Homo sapiens: one gene and its partners. The protein of the gene in region 1 purifies or fractionates together with the protein of each later gene. This does not show direct contact. Each region holds a gene or a part of one and is shown in the gene's direction. Other genes may lie near its edges.

Region 1 (3,891 bases):
GGCAACTGTTTTGCATTTGTTCTTATATTCTCTTTAAGAGCTGCTATAGTATTCTAATGTGTTTCTTTAGTCTCTCCCAGGTCCATGGACTTTTAGGTAGCCGACAGTATTTTGCTACTACAAACAATGTTCTAGTGACCGTTTTGTTGGTGGGAATAAAATATTTCACCAGCATTTGAGGGTTAACTTCAAGCCACTCATATAAAATGGGAATCACCATCTCCTATGACCAAATGACACTATTTTAGCCCACTTTCTCATTCCTGTGTCGGTTGTGTCATGTGGGATATGGTTAATCACAACCCATTTTACACCTAACCCCTTCTTGCTTGTTTCTCTTTGTCAGAGGAAACCAGACAGTGTCCACAAATGGGTTCTTGCTCACAGCGTCATGTGGGCACTGACCCTCCTCGGAGGGTCCAAGGCCCTGTGTGGCTGCAGCATTCCACCTCGCTCTGTGGTCTCGGCTCAGCTGCCCTGCGATGCTGCCCTCTGCTGCGGGAGCTGGAGCTCTGGTGGGAGCTCGCTGTTCGTGGTCCTCAGCAGATATTCAAGGCAGACCTGTTCTAAGAAACTAAATGAATAATCACTGTGTTATGCTCCAGAAGGTCTGAACCGAGCAGTTTTGGCATCCACGGCAGAGAGCAGAGAAGTAGGTTCCTCTGATGTCAATATTGATGGTGTAGACGTCAGTTGTATCTTAAAAGGTGCCTATATCTTTCCTTTTCATTTTCTTTCTGATATAAGTAGGTCCTTGTTCTAGTCCAAATAACTTTTTGGACTGATGAGATAAACAGCCTGGTCACTTTTTTCTTTTGGATCTTTTTGACTAGATTTCTTCCATTTTCTAAACTCTTTAAGGTCATTTCCTCGTCTTGGATATTTAAATAATTAATAACTGTTTATTGGTTGGGACAGTCTTAAAGTAATGTCTTTATGCCTGGTGCAATGGGCTCATGCCTGTAACCCCAGCACTTTGGGAGATCGAGGCAGGAGGGTAACTTGAAGGCAGGAGTTCAAGACAAGCCTGATTAACATAGCAAGACACCAAAAAAACTTTTTAACTTAACCTGGTGTGGTGACACACACCTATAGTCCCAGCTTCTCAGGAGGCTGAGGCAGGAGGATTGCTTGAGCCCAGTTCAAGGCTGCAGTGAGCCATGATGGCACCACTGCACTCCAGCCTGGACAACACAGACAACAGAGCAAGAAGCTGTCTCTATTTTTTTTTAAAGTAATGTCTTTATATTTACTTTTTATAGGAAACAAATCTCACTGAATTAATTTTTACCCTGAATAAAATGCTTAAGAATCATAAAGGGAATTATGGTTGAGAAGTCAGTTTCTGGCAGGTGAAGGAGTGGGCCACTCAGAAGTGCACTAATGGCTTCTCCTGTCTGGGAAGAACGGAGCTGTTGCCTGGGTGACCACAGTGGGTCACAGGAAGCCATTCAGGGTGGGCGGCCGGCCCCTTGAGGTGAGCTGCTGCTGATGGGGTCAGAGTCAGCTTCCTCCCCACCCCTCCTGCTGAGGTCAGGGCTCAGTCTGGTGCTGGTGACCCCAGACACAGCAAGCTCCCACCAGTCGATGGCCTCTCCTGGTGCATACCTCTCTGCCTTCTCCACTCCCCTCCCTTGATCTCTGTCTCCTCCATCCTTGGGCTCTCACACCTGCCTCCTCCTCCCCAGGTATGCCTGGGTGTCCTCAGAACCTGGCTGCTTCCTGTCCTGCTGGTGGGGGTTGGTGACGAGTGGCGGCTGCTTCTCCACATGGCCACAGCAGTAACAATTCCTGCTGGCCTCATTTTTTATGATTTTATATTTATATACCCATTTCACATTCTTTACTTATGAGCCATGGTTTTTACAGCATGTTGTCTGTCGGGGCCTCCTCCTTTTCCTGGGCTCAGCCTGTTCTTCCACAAGGACTGTGTTGACGCGGGGGTTCTTGAGAGGCTCAGAGACCTGGGTCAGTGGAAACGAAACCCACAGCCAGCATGCAGCTCACCACACACACAGCTCCTCAGTGTGTGGCCAGTGACCTCTCAGCTTCTTCCGGGGCAGCAGTGGTTGTCTTGGGTACATGGCCACTGTGGATGGACACTAATGTGCGCTTTCATGCAACCTGTCAGATTCTTGGTGGCTTCGACTCTCACATGTTTTTGATTTGCTATGGTTTGAATATTTATCCCCTTCAATACTTAGGTTAAAACAATCCTCAATGTAGTAGTATTGAGAGACGGGCCTTGAAGAGGTGATTGGGTCATGAAAGCTCTGCCCTCGTAAGTGGGTTAATCCGTTAATAGATTAGTGGGTTTTCAAGGGATAGGTTTTATAAGAAGAAGAGAGACCTGGGCCAACACGCTCAGCCCCCTCACTACACGATGGCCTGTGCCACCTGGGAACCCTGAAAAGTCCCCGCCAGCAAGAAAGCCATTGTGGCCACTCGACCCTGGATTTATCCAGCCTCATAACTGTGAGAAATAAATGCCTTTCCTTTATAATTTACCCAGTTTCCGGTATGTTGTTATAAGCAACAGAGGCAAACTTAGACACATGAGCAGACTGCAGCTCTTCCTGAAGGGGACTTGGGACTCGAACCTCTTTGGTCACAAAGCTTTGTAGAGTTTTCTGGGTCAGCACCCAGTCCTGTGATTCCCTGAAGGCTTCATGGCCAGGACCTGTGTGTTTGAGGGTTGCCTCGTGTCGTGGGATGAGTGGAAATTAAACCGTCCGGCTGACATTTGCTGATGCGTTGGCTGATCCTCTCATTTATTTATTTTTTCTGAGATGGAGTTTCACTCTGTCGCCCAGGCTGGAGTGCAATAGCATGATCTCAACTCACTGCAACCTCCGCCTCCTGGGTTCAAGCAGTTCTCTTGCCTCAGCCTCCTGAGTAGCTGGGATTACAGGCGCCTGTCACCACGCCCAGCTAATTTTTGTATTTTTAGTAGAGATGGGGTTTCACCATGTTGGCCAGGCTGGTCTCGAACTCCTGACCTCAGGTGATCCACCCGTCTTGGCCTCCCAAAGTGCTGGGATTACAGGCGTGAGCCACTGTGCCCGGCCTCCTCCCATTTATTAACATTTTTCAGCAGGTTTTTATGGAACAGATACCAGATTGTAATAAAGAACTTTCCTTTTTAAATATTATTTTTATTTTATTTATTTTTTGAAACGGAGCCTCACGCACTCTGTCACCCAGATTGGAGTGCAGGGGTGCGATCTGGGCTCACTGCAACCTTTGCCTCCTGGGTTGAAGCAATTCTCCTGCCTCAGCCTCCCGAGTAGCTGGGATTACTGGCATGTGCCACCATGCCCAACTAATTTTTTGGATTTTTGGTAGAGACAGGGTTTCACTATGTTGGCCAGGCTGGTCTTGAACTCCTCAAGTGATCCGCCTGCCTTGGCCTCCCACAGTGCTGAGATTACAGGCGCGAGCCCCTGTAGCCGGCCCTTTTTTAATGTTAAAGACTCACTTTTCTTAACTAATCAAAGACTAGAGACAGCATGAAGCTTAATAAGTTATCCTGATAAAACACAAAATCATTGTTTTCTAGGCCAATTACTTAAAATGTTAAAAAAAAAAAAAAAAAAAAAAAAAACTTTTGTAATTAAGAGAAGACCAATATTCAAGAAAATATTGTCCTATTGGCCAGGCGCGGTGACTCATTCCTGTAATCCCAGCACTTTGGGAGGCTGAGGCAGGCAGATCATGAGGTCAGGAGATCAAGACCATCCTGGCTAACACGGTGAGACCCCGTCTCTACTAAATATACAAAAAATTAGCCGGGCGTGGTGGCGGGCGCCTCTAGTCCCAGCTACTCAGGAGGCTGAGGCGGGAGAATGGCGTGAACCCAGGAGGCAGAGCTTGCAGTGAGCCGAGATGGCC
Region 2 (4,327 bases), on another chromosome or scaffold:
GGATGGAGTAGTACAAAAAATAATTATCAATTGGATATATTCCCCTCACCACCCACTGAGAAAGACATATTCTTACCCAGTTACAGAAAGATACATCATTTGATACACCATCAAACGACCCAAGGCTCCAACAAACAACACACACTAGGAAGCACTCAACAGAAAGGGACAAATACACAGACCTTCAGTGAGACACTAGGAAAGGAGGCTAAAGGAACAAGAGGGACAGTGAAATGTGTCTTCCTTGAAAAGGACGGGCAGATACTCAGGCAAGAACAGGGGTACTCTGCTGGAGAGTGTAACTGGGTGCATGTGTGTGTTTCTCTCTCACATACAAACCCACACACACTAATCTCTTATACAAATGCGCTCTCTCTTAAATATATGCACTGGCTCTCTCACACAAGTAATTTCTCTTTCACACTTGATCTCTCTCAGTTTCTGTTGTTCCCTCATACAATCTCTCTCTCACAGTCTCTTGCATACACATACAATCTCAATCTCTCTCTCTCTCTCTCTCTCTCTCTCTTTCCCCCCCCCCTCCTCTCTCTCTCTCTCTCTCTCTCTGAAACGGGGTCTGGTTCTGTCGCCCACGCTGGAGTGCAGTGGTGTGATCTCTGCTCACTGCAGCCTCGACTTCCCGCGCTGAGACGATCCTCCCACCTCAGCCTCCTGAGTAGCTGGGACCACACTGCCGCCACCACGCCCGCCTAATTCTATTTTTAGTAGAGATGGGGTTGCCCAGGCTGGTCTCCAACTCCTGGGCTCAAGCTATCTGCCCGCCTCGGCCTCCCAAAGTGCATACAATCTCTTATACGCAGTTTCTTTTATATAGAATCTCTCTCACACACACACACAAATCACGCTCAGCGTCTCTCTCACACTCTCTAACGGTCTCTTACGCACACACAATATCCCTCATACATACACACAGCCTCTCTCATGTACAATCTCCCTCATGCAGTGTATGTCCATAGTTTTTCACACAACACCCTTCTTCTCTCAGTCTGTCGGCCTCTCTCTCAATCTCACACACACACCCCCGCCCCCCAACACACCGTTGGCCCCGCCCCCTGTCTTGGCCCCTCCCCTGTACGGCTCCGCCCCGACGGCCGGGGGTTGGGCGAGCCAGTGACAGGAGGGGCCGGGCTGGTACTTCAGGCGCCCAGGCCGGCGGGGCGCGCTCCGGCGGCTCCTGTCAGCGGCGGGTGCGGCGGATCCCAGGGCAGCCTTCGGGCGGCGGCGCTGCCTGGTGCGTCGCGGCGTGGTCCTCCGGCGGCTGTCCGGGGCGGTAGGAGTTGGCTGCGGGATGTGCTCAGCCGGGGAGCTGCTGCGGGGCGGCGACGGCGGGGAACGCGACGAGGACGGGGACGCGCTGGCGGAGCGGGAGGCGGCAGGGACCGGGTGGGATCCCGGGGCGAGCCCGCGGCGGCGCGGACAGCGGCCGAAGGAGAGCGAGCAGGTGAGCGCGGGGAGGGGCGGCGGCGAAGCGGCCGGGTCGGGGGCCGCGAGCCCCGCCCGGCGTTGGAGGGAAGGGGCCCGGCCCGCGGGCCGCGCCGCAGCTCTGCCCCGCGTGGGCACTGGCTCCCCGGCGCTCTGGGAAGTCGTCGCCGGGAGCGGTTAGACGGCGCTCCCAGGAGGAGCGGCGGGGTCGCGCGAGTGCAGACGCCAGCGCCGGCCCCGGGGTCGCGTGTCTGGCGGGGTCAGCGTGGTTCGTCCCCTGGCGTCCGGCAGAGGATTCTCAGGCTGGCGCCCAGGGCTCGGAGGAAATGCCCTCCATAGCGGTGATTTATTTAAAAGCCTCACTTGTAAACACTTCTTTTTCAACTTCGAGTCCGTGCCCTGCGCCAGGTTTAGGAGACGCCGGCTCCCCTCCCGCCCTCCATCTTGCGTTTCCGAGCCCACACCTAGCGTGTCTGGAAGGTGTGGGTGGATTCCGTCCACGGGCAGCGCTGAAAGCATGAGTAGGAGCGGGTGTTACAATGAATGTCTTGACAGGGACTCTCCCAGAGCACGTTCTTCATAAATACAGATGAGATCAAAGCTTCAGTTAAAAAGTGGAGAGGCAAGAATATTGCTTTCGGTTATAAGAGGCCAGCCATAGTAAGGGAAAAGAGAAGTTGCGTAATTTTTTAAACTCTCTGAGTTTATCTCATTTAAATAAAGTGTGATAATGGGCATTATAACATCAAATATCTTAAAGATTAGGCAAAAGGTTTAATTTTAAAAATTGAATTGTATGTTGGATGAATTTTCTACAGCAAATACAGTATTTAGACTTTCCAAATACCTGAGGTAAGCCGCTCTTTAGACTCACATTAAGGAGCAGGAATTCAAATGATTATTGGCCTTTATTACAGCCTGTACTGTTAGGACAATTAATACCTGTCTCTCCTCATCTTTCTTCATCTGTCCTTTCTGTCACGTTTCACAAATTCCAGTATCATCACTAAATGCATTAATAGATGTATACCTTACATTGTTTCAATAGGTTACTTAGGAAACAGAGTAATACTGTGTGGCACACAAAATATGCCTTAGCGTTAGGTTTGATCACCACGTGGAGTGTAATTTTTCATCTGTGACAATATAAGAGAAAGTGACTCAAGCAAATAATTTGGTAGCTTGTTCTTCGGATTCCCTTCCTAGTGGTTTTTCCCGTTAACTATTCATTTGCTCAAGGGCTTGATTTCCTCTAACTTAAATTGCTTAACTGGAAAAGTGAAGAAGACAGCACAAGAATTCCTTTGGGGGTGGGGAGGGGTTGCATTTGAGCAGGGGTTTCCAAAGTAAATTTTCAAATAGTTGTAAGGGAGCATATAAAAATACTTCATTTAAGCTTCTGTGTACTTCATTAGTATGATTATGTAGACATCACTAATAGTTGTGGTCTTTCCAAAATTGCTTATGGTACAAAGTAAAAGGATAAAACAAAAAATGAAAAGTACATCTTAGAAAACATATCACTTTGCATACCTGCCTCCTTCATTGAATGTCATGAAAGTTCATTCTCCTGTACTCCTTTGAAGTGTTATTTTTATCATTCTGTTTTTGCCTCAAGATTTATTAATGTATTCTAAGCCCCCATACACAATAATTGAAAATCACACCGGAGATAGGCATTTCCTACTACATTAGCACCAAAGAAGAATTAGTCAAGAAGACAAAAATAAGCAAAAAATTGGTGCAACCCAACCCATTGTTGTAAAAAGCAAGCTTTTCTGATAAAACGTTTCTTGGTAATGTTATCACAAAGCCTTGTTTTCTAGTTTTTTTCAAGTTCTGTAAATGAAATTATGCATTGCCATGTAATGATGGTAGAAATAGTATTACATGTGTAAAGATATTTGAGGAAGAAATGAAATTAACAACTATGGAACATATCCCAAGGACTCATTTTATTTAGTTTTTATTTAGGGAGATGATTTTTGTTTGTCCTGTTGGTTGGTTTAAGGATACAAGGACTCCAGATTACAAATGGAATATTTTTGAAAGATTGGTTTCTAAGTTAATGATTTAGAACTTAAGGTGAACTTTTCCATGAAAACAATGATATAAACAGGAACAGAACCAAAACTAATTAGCTGGAAATGAGACAGAGGCCATCTTCCTGCCGTCTTTTCTACTTGGCACGCTCACTTCGTGTTCCGGAGTCATGGATAGCCTCATGGGTATTGAGAGGAAATTAGAGGCAGGAGCTAGCAGAGGCGCTCCTTTTAACCCAGAAAAGAGCTATGGTTGTATGCTCTTGAACACCATAGCTCCAGAGGCACCTGACTTGTGCTCCTCTAGCTCTTTCAATGATTTTGTCAACACCTAATTTTCTGTATTAAGTCCCTTTCTATTTCTATTCCCCTCACAGAGTTTGCCCTTTCCTAATAATTTGATGGAGGTTTCTTTCTTGGGCTATTTCTCAAGCTAAATCCTCGTCCACATACATCCCTTCCTTCACTGATTTTTCTTTCCACTTCTGTCTGAAAGGTTCATTCCTTTTCCTCAACCTGGAAAGCTCTTTCATCAGCTTGTTATTACAATACCAGAACAAAATGTATCTTTATTTTGTTACTTATTTCATATATATATGAAATATATAAAACACCTAGTATTAACATAGGTGTTTTATTACTAGTTAAGATATTGTCTGCATCATTTTTAACAATTTGTCTTTAGATGCTACTCCATTTGAGCAAAAAATGAAGGTTCTTCTGTCATTCTGGCCTGAGTCTTTCCAGGTAGGGCGATTGACAAAGGATGCCTGGTTAAAATCAAGTCACTTAAGAAAGGAGGCCTTGGGAGAATGAATCAAGTCCTGTAGATGAAGAAACTG
Region 3 (3,878 bases), on another chromosome or scaffold:
TTATTGCCTTTATATTGTGTAGACTATTTTGTATAATTTGTTGAGTTGCAGATTTTGTGATATGTAGCTGTTCTCAATCTACTGCTATGTAAAAGCCCTTCTCATTGAACAGCAGATGTATTGTGTGTTGGGGAAGATGGACTCTAACTACAGTATGCATACTTTGGAAAATTAACTTATAAGTACATTTAGGGAAGATGGAAAGTTTATGGGGACATACATGGCATGACTAGAAATCAAAACTAGCTAGTGGACAGAAGGTGAGAGTACATAAAGGTGTTACCAATTTGTCTTTTTATGAAAACTCAAAATTCAATTTATATTTTCACTTTCTTGGGAGTTAGGTGTATTACGATTGTGATATAATTATATGCCACAATTATACCATTGTATAGCATAATAATGATGTGGTAAACCAAAATAAGAGAGTTGAGAAACGTATTTTTCTTAACGACTTGGGTGTTGAACCTGTCATAAGTGGTGCTTATTTATCTGAACATCAGCATTTCTTTCATTTTAGGATTCTGGATGGAGAACAGCCATTTGCCCAGATTATTGTCCTAACATGTATGAAGAAATGGAAACATTAGCCAGTGTACTTCAGTCAGATATTGGTCAAGACATGCGTGTTCATAACAGCACATTTCTATGGTTCATCCCTTTTGTCCAGTCCCTCATGGATCTTAAGGATTTGGGTGTGGCTTACATAGCACAGGTTGTTAATCATCTGTACTCTGAAGTCAAAGAAGTCCTCAACCAAACAGATGCTGTGTGTGACAAAGTCACTGAATTTTTTCTTCTAATTTTGGTATCAGTGATTGAACTGCATAGAAATAAAAAATGTTTGCATTTGCTGTGGGTAAGTTCCCAGCAATGGGTGGAAGCCGTCGTCAAATGTGCCAAGCTTCCTACCACTGCGTTTACACGGAGTTCTGAGAAATCATCTGGAAATTGCTCCAAAGGAACAGCAATGATATCTTCACTGTCATTGCATTCCATGCCATCTAACTCTGTACAACTTGCTTATGTGCAGCTGATTAGAAGTCTCCTTAAAGAAGGTTATCAGCTTGGGCAGCAGTCTCTTTGCAAGCGATTCTGGGATAAGCTCAACTTATTCCTTAGAGGAAATTTATCTCTAGGTTGGCAGTTGACTAGTCAGGAAACCCATGAGCTACAAAGTTGCTTAAAGCAAATTATTAGAAACATAAAATTCAAAGCACCTCCATGTAACACTTTTGTGGATCTGACTTCTGCATGTAAAATCTCTCCTGCATCTTATAATAAAGAAGAAAGTGAACAAATGGGGAAGACGTCTAGAAAAGATATGCATTGTTTGGAAGCTTCCAGCCCAACATTTTCTAAAGAACCAATGAAAGTGCAAGACAGTGTATTGATCAAAGCAGATAACACTATAGAAGGTGACAATAATGAGCAAAATTATATAAAGGATGTGAAACTAGAGGACCATCTCTTAGCTGGGTCATGCTTAAAGCAGAGTAGTAAAAACATTTTTACTGAAAGAGCTGAAGATCAAATTAAAATAAGTACAAGGAAGCAGAAGTCTGTAAAAGAGATCTCTTCATATACACCAAAGGACTGTACTTCAAGAAATGGTCCAGAAAGGGGATGTGACAGAGGAATAATAGTATCAACACGTTTGTTGACTGATTCTAGCACTGATGCTTTGGAAAAAGTGTCCACATCGAATGAAGATTTCTCTTTAAAGGATGATGCTCTTGCTAAAACCTCAAAACGAAAAACTAAGGTACAGAAAGATGAAATCTGTGCAAAGTTATCACATGTAATAAAGAAGCAACACAGGAAGAGTACTTTGGTCGATAATACTATCAATTTAGATGAAAATTTGACTGTATCTAACATTGAGAGTTTCTATTCAAGGAAAGATACAGGAGTTCAGAAAGGAGATGGTTTCATACACAATCTTTCTTTAGACCCTAGTGGTGTTCTGGATGATAAGAATGGAGAACAAAAATCTCAAAACAATGTATTGCCAAAAGAGAAACAATTAAAGAATGAAGAATTAGTTATTTTCTCTTTCCATGAAAACAATTGTAAAATACAGGAATTTCATGTTGATGGTAAAGAATTGATCCCTTTTACAGAAATGACCAATGCTTCAGAGAAGAAATCATCTCCCTTTAAAGATCTTATGACTGTACCTGAATCAAGAGATGAGGAGATGAGTAATAGTACCAGTGTGATTTATTCTAACTTGACAAGAGAACAGGCCCCTGACATCAGTCCTAAATCTGACACCTTAACGGATTCTCAGATAGACAGAGACCTTCACAAATTATCTTTACTAGCTCAAGCCAGTGTTATTACGTTCCCATCCGATTCACCTCAGAACTCATCGCAGCTGCAAAGGAAAGTAAAAGAAGATAAAAGATGTTTCACAGCTAACCAAAATAATGTTGGAGATACCTCCCGTGGACAGGTTATTATTATTTCAGATTCTGATGATGATGATGATGAAAGAATCCTGAGTCTTGAGAAACTCACTAAACAGGACAAAATATGCCTTGAGAGGGAACATCCAGAGCAGCACGTTTCAACAGTTAATAGTAAGGAGGAAAAGAATCCAGTAAAGGAAGAAAAGACAGAGACTCTTTTTCAGTTTGAGGAATCTGATTCTCAGTGTTTTGAGTTTGAAAGTTCATCTGAAGTGTTTTCAGTTTGGCAAGATCATCCAGACGATAATAATTCAGTTCAAGATGGTGAGAAAAAATGTTTGGCTCCTATAGCCAATACTACAAATGGTCAGGGTTGTACAGATTATGTATCTGAAGTTGTTAAAAAAGGAGCAGAGGGCATTGAAGAACACACAAGACCACGGAGTATTTCTGTTGAAGAATTTTGTGAAATTGAAGTAAAAAAGCCTAAGAGAAAACGATCTGAAAAACCAATGGCTGAAGATCCTGTGAGGCCTTCATCTTCTGTCAGAAATGAGGGCCAGTCTGATACTAATAAGAGAGATCTTGTGGGAAATGATTTTAAAAGTATTGATAGAAGGACTTCAACTCCCAATTCACGTATTCAGAGAGCCACTACGGTTTCACAAAAGAAGTCTTCAAAGCTTTGTACTTGTACAGAACCCATCAGGAAAGTTCCAGTTTCTAAGACCCCTAAGAAAACTCATTCAGATGCCAAAAAAGGACAGAATAGAAGTTCAAATTACCTAAGTTGTAGAACAACTCCTGCTATAGTGCCGCCAAAGAAATTTCGTCAGTGTCCTGAGCCAACTTCAACAGCTGAGAAACTTGGCCTGAAAAAGGGTCCTCGTAAGGCATATGAGTTGTCCCAGCGGTCTTTGGATTATGTAGCTCAATTACGTGATCATGGCAAAACTGTTGGAGTAGTTGATACCCGAAAAAAGACTAAATTAATTTCTCCTCAGAACCTGTCTGTCAGAAATAATAAGAAACTTCTGACTAGTCAAGAACTTCAGATGCAAAGGCAGATCAGACCCAAATCACAAAAAAATAGACGAAGACTTTCTGATTGTGAAAGTACAGATGTTAAAAGAGCAGGGTCACATACAGCACAGAATTCTGACATATTTGTACCAGAATCTGATAGGTCAGATTATAATTGTACAGGAGGAACTGAGGTACTTGCCAACAGTAACAGAAAACAGTTAATAAAATGCATGCCTTCTGAACCAGAAACCATAAAAGCAAAACATGGGTCTCCAGCAACTGATGATGCTTGCCCTTTGAACCAGTGTGATTCTGTAGTGTTAAATGGAACAGTACCAACAAATGAAGTAATTGTCTCCACTTCAGAAGACCCTCTGGGTGGAGGTGATCCAACAGCACGTCATATAGAGATGGCAGCTTTGAAAGAAGGAGAGCCTG
Region 4 (3,878 bases), on another chromosome or scaffold:
TATCTATTTACTGGATCTTTGGGGTTAGATTTGTTGATAATAGGTCACAACATTTTATTTCTCTTCAAAGCAAGGATACGTTATGTGTATTATGCAGCTTGAACAAATCACTTGTAAAATAGGTGGTCTTTTGTGTTTTATAATTACTGTATTAATTAAATTACATGTATGATTGTATTTTATAGTGAATCAAGCATTTCTTTTAAATTTTTCTTTATTTCAAAATAACTCAGAAGTACAATGATCTTGCTAAAATATCTATAAACTTATGTTTTTTTTTTTTTGAGACAGAGTCTCGCTCTGTTGCCCAGGCGGGAGCGTAGTGGTGTGATCTCAGCTCACTGCAAGCTCCGCCTCCTGGGTTCAAGTGATTGTCCTGCCTCAACCTCCCAAGTAGCTGGGACTACAGGCACCTGCCACCACACCTAGCTAATTTTTGTATTTTTAGTAGAGACAGGGTTTCACCATATTGGCCAGGCTGGTCTCAAACTCCTGACCTCGTGATCTGCCCACCTTGGCCTCCCAAAGTGCTGGGATTACAGGTGTGAGCCACTGTGCCCAGCCTGTTTTATAAATATAATTTGTAATGATTTAAATGGGGTAGATTATTCTGGATTAGTACTATATGATGAATCATGGCAAGGATAATTAACATGTATTTGAAATCCATATATATTTTTTTCTTTTGGGATAGGGTTTGGCTCTGTTACCCAGGGTGGAGTACAGTGGTACAACCAGGGCTCACTGCAGCCTCAGACTTCCAGGCTCAAGCCATCGTCCTATCTCAGCCTCCCAAGTTTCTGGGACCACAGGTGGATGCCACCACGCCCAGCTAATTTTTATATTTTTAGTAGAGATGGGATTTCGCCATGTTGCCAGGTTGGTCTTGAACTCCTGGGCTCAAGGAATCCTCCTACCTTGGCCTCCCAAGAAATCCAAATTTTTTTTAAAAAACTTTCTATTATAGAATATTTTTAACATTTACAAAAGGAGAAAGAGTAGTACAACGAATTCCCATGTACCCATCCTCCAGCTTCAACAATTGTCAACACATAGCCAGTCTTGTTTTATCTATATCCCCTCCCACTCTCAGTATACTTCAGTATATTTTAAATAATATCATTTCATCTTTAAATACCTCAGTATGTTTCTCTAAGGACTTTTTAAAAATATAGAACCAGCTGGGCGTGGTGGCACACGCTTGTAGTTTCAGCTACTCAGAAGGCTGAGGTGGCACAGCAAAGGATACAATCAACAAAGTGAAGCGAGAGTACACAGAAGGGTAGAAAATATTGGCAAACTACCCATCTGACAAGGGATTAATAACCAGAATATATAAGGAGCTCAAACAACTCTAATTAGGAAAAAGTCTAATAATCCAATCAAAAAATGGGCAAAAGATTTGAGTAGAGATTTCTCAAAAGACCCGTGCAAATGGCAAACAGGCATATGAAAAGGTGCAACATCAGAAAAATGCAAATCAAAACTACAATGAGACATCATCTCACCACAGTTAAAATGGCTTATATCCAAAAGACATGCCATAACAAATGCTGGCAAGGATGTGGAGAAAAGGGAACCCTGCACACTGTTTTTGGGAATGTAAATTAGTATAAGCTCTATGGAGAACAGTTTGGAGGTTCCCCCAAAAACTAAAAATTGAGCTAGCATGTGATCCAGTAATCCCACTGCCTGGGTATATACCCAAAAGACAGGAAATCAATATATTGAAGAGATATCTGTACTCTTACGTTTATTGCAGCACTGTATACAATAGCTAAGATTTGAAAGCAACATAAGTGTCCATCAACAGATGAATGGATAAAGAAAATGTGGTGGCTGGGCGCGGTGGCTCACGCCTGTAATCCCAGCACTTTGGGAGGACAAGGCGGGCGGATCATGAGGTCAGGAGATCGAGACCATCCTGGCTAACAAGGTGAAACTCCGTCTCTACTAAAAATACAAAAAGTTAGCCGGGCGTGGTGGCGGGCGCCTATAGTCCCAGCTACTCCTGAGGCTGAAGCAGGAGAATGGCGTGAACTCGGGAGGCGGAGCTTACAGTGAGCCGAGATCGCGCCACTGCACTCCAGCCTGGGTGACAGAGCGAGACTCCCTCTCAAAAAAAAAAAAAAAAAAAAAAAAAAAAAAAGCCTGGTGTGGTGGCTCACGCCTGTAATCCCAGCACTTTCGGAGGCCGAGGCGGGCTGATTACCTGAGGTCAGGAGTTCGAGACCAGCCTCAACATGGAGAAACCCTGTCTCTACTAAAAATACAAAATTAGCTGGGCATGGTGGTGCATGCCTGTAATCCCAGCTACTCGGGAGGCTGAGGCAGGAGAATTGTTTGAACCTGGGAGGCGGAGGTTGCAGTGAACCGAGATCGCGCCATTGCACTCCAGCCTGGGGCAACAAGAGCGAAACTGCGTCTCAAAAAAAAAAAAAAAAAAGAAAAATGTGGTATATATACACAATGGGGTAATATTCAGCCGTAAAAAAAATGATATCCTGTCATTTGCAACATGGGTGGAACTGGAGATTATTATGTTAAGTGAAATAAGCCAGGCACAGAAAGATAAACGTCGCATGCTTTCACTCATTTGTGGGAGCTAAAAATCAAAACAATTGAACTAATGGACGTAGAGAGCAGAACGATGGTTACCAGAGGCTGGGAAGGGTAACGGGCGATTGTGGGGGAGGTGGGGATGGTTAATGGGTAAAAAAAAATAAAATGAATAAGACCTACTATTTGACAGCACAACAGGGTGACTATAGTCAATAATAACTTAATTATACATTTTAAAGTAACTTAGAACGTAATTGGATTGTTTGTAACTCAAAGGATAAATGCCTGAGGGAATGGATACTCCATTTTTCATGATGTGTTTATTTTGCGTTGCATGCTTGTATCAAAATATCTCATGTACCCCATAAATATATGTACCTACTATGTACCCACAAAAAAAATTTTTTTTTTAATTTTAATAAAAATGCTGAGGTTGGAGGATCACTTGAGCCTAGATGTTCAAGTTCAGCCTGGGCAACACAGTGAGACACTGTGTCTTAAAAACATAATAAAATTGATAAATTTAAATTTTCGATATTACCTAGTACCTTGTCTGTGTTCAAATTTTGTTGATTGTCTTATAAAGGTCTTTTTATAGGCAGTTTATTTAAATCAGTTTCTGAGTAAGGTTCACAATTACTGTGTCTCTTAAATTTTTTTGTTTCTTTTTAAATAAACTTTACAGAAAAATAATGTATAAAAATTATACTAGTCATAAGCATACAGCATGATGAATTTTAATATACTGATCATTGCTATGTAACAGCACCAAGATAAGGAAACAACATCATTAGTTCTTTTCATGTTCTCTTCTAGTCCTCTCACCCAAAAAGGATCTTGACCTCTAACACCATAAATTGTTTCTATAGAAATGGAATCCTATAGTATGTACCCTTATAGTTTAGTTTGCTCAGTATGTTTTAAGGATTTATCCATTATGTTGTATGATTCCATAATTTTATTCTATTGTATGAGTATGTGCAGTTTATCCATTGTACTCTTGATGGACATTCGGGTTTTTTGCAGGGTTTTGCTATTACATATGTGTTGCTGTGAATTTTCTTATGCTTGTTTTTTAGTGAATTCAAAGTCATAAAATCTATAACAGTTCCTTTTTCCTCTCTTTTGTCTTGCCATTTTCTTGTTGAAGAAATTGGATTATTTCTCCTATTAAAAAAATTCATAGCACTGTTGTAGTAGCAGCCATTATATTTGTTAATATGCAACCTTGAGTCAAAATTGTTCTGTCATCTAAAAAAATTAAGTAAATCATTCAAATAATTTTTAGTGATTTTCCCCCTTTCAAAACCTTTCTA

What was found. Proteins that work in one complex are often made in the same cells at the same time.
Region 2: the proteins of VIPR2 (region 1) and FAM241A purify together in Homo sapiens (co-immunoprecipitation; 3 studies listed by BioGRID and IntAct, with this or other methods). This does not show direct contact.
Region 3: the proteins of VIPR2 (region 1) and SETX purify together in Homo sapiens (affinity purification with mass spectrometry; 2 studies listed by BioGRID and IntAct, with this or other methods). This does not show direct contact.
Region 4: the proteins of VIPR2 (region 1) and FASTKD1 purify together in Homo sapiens (co-immunoprecipitation; 3 studies listed by BioGRID and IntAct, with this or other methods). This does not show direct contact.

What each region holds. Positions count from the first base shown.
Region 1 is NC_000007.14:159,134,718-159,138,608, reverse strand, and holds part of VIPR2 (vasoactive intestinal polypeptide receptor 2 isoform 1 precursor), read left to right. Parts: intron 1-3,891. UniProt on the Homo sapiens protein: G protein-coupled receptor activated by the neuropeptides vasoactive intestinal peptide (VIP) and pituitary adenylate cyclase-activating polypeptide (ADCYAP1/PACAP).
Region 2 is NC_000004.12:112,144,272-112,148,598, forward strand, and holds the start of FAM241A (uncharacterized protein FAM241A), read left to right. Parts: upstream 1-1,182; 5' UTR 1,183-1,309; coding exon 1,310-1,462; intron 1,463-4,327.
Region 3 is NC_000009.12:132,327,142-132,331,019, reverse strand, and holds part of SETX (probable helicase senataxin), read left to right. Parts: intron 1-520; coding exon 521-3,878. UniProt on the Homo sapiens protein: Probable RNA/DNA helicase involved in diverse aspects of RNA metabolism and genomic integrity.
Region 4 is NC_000002.12:169,563,521-169,567,398, reverse strand, and holds part of FASTKD1 (FAST kinase domain-containing protein 1, mitochondrial), read left to right. Parts: intron 1-3,878. UniProt on the Homo sapiens protein: Involved in the down-regulation of mitochondrial MT-ND3 mRNA levels which leads to decreased respiratory complex I abundance and activity.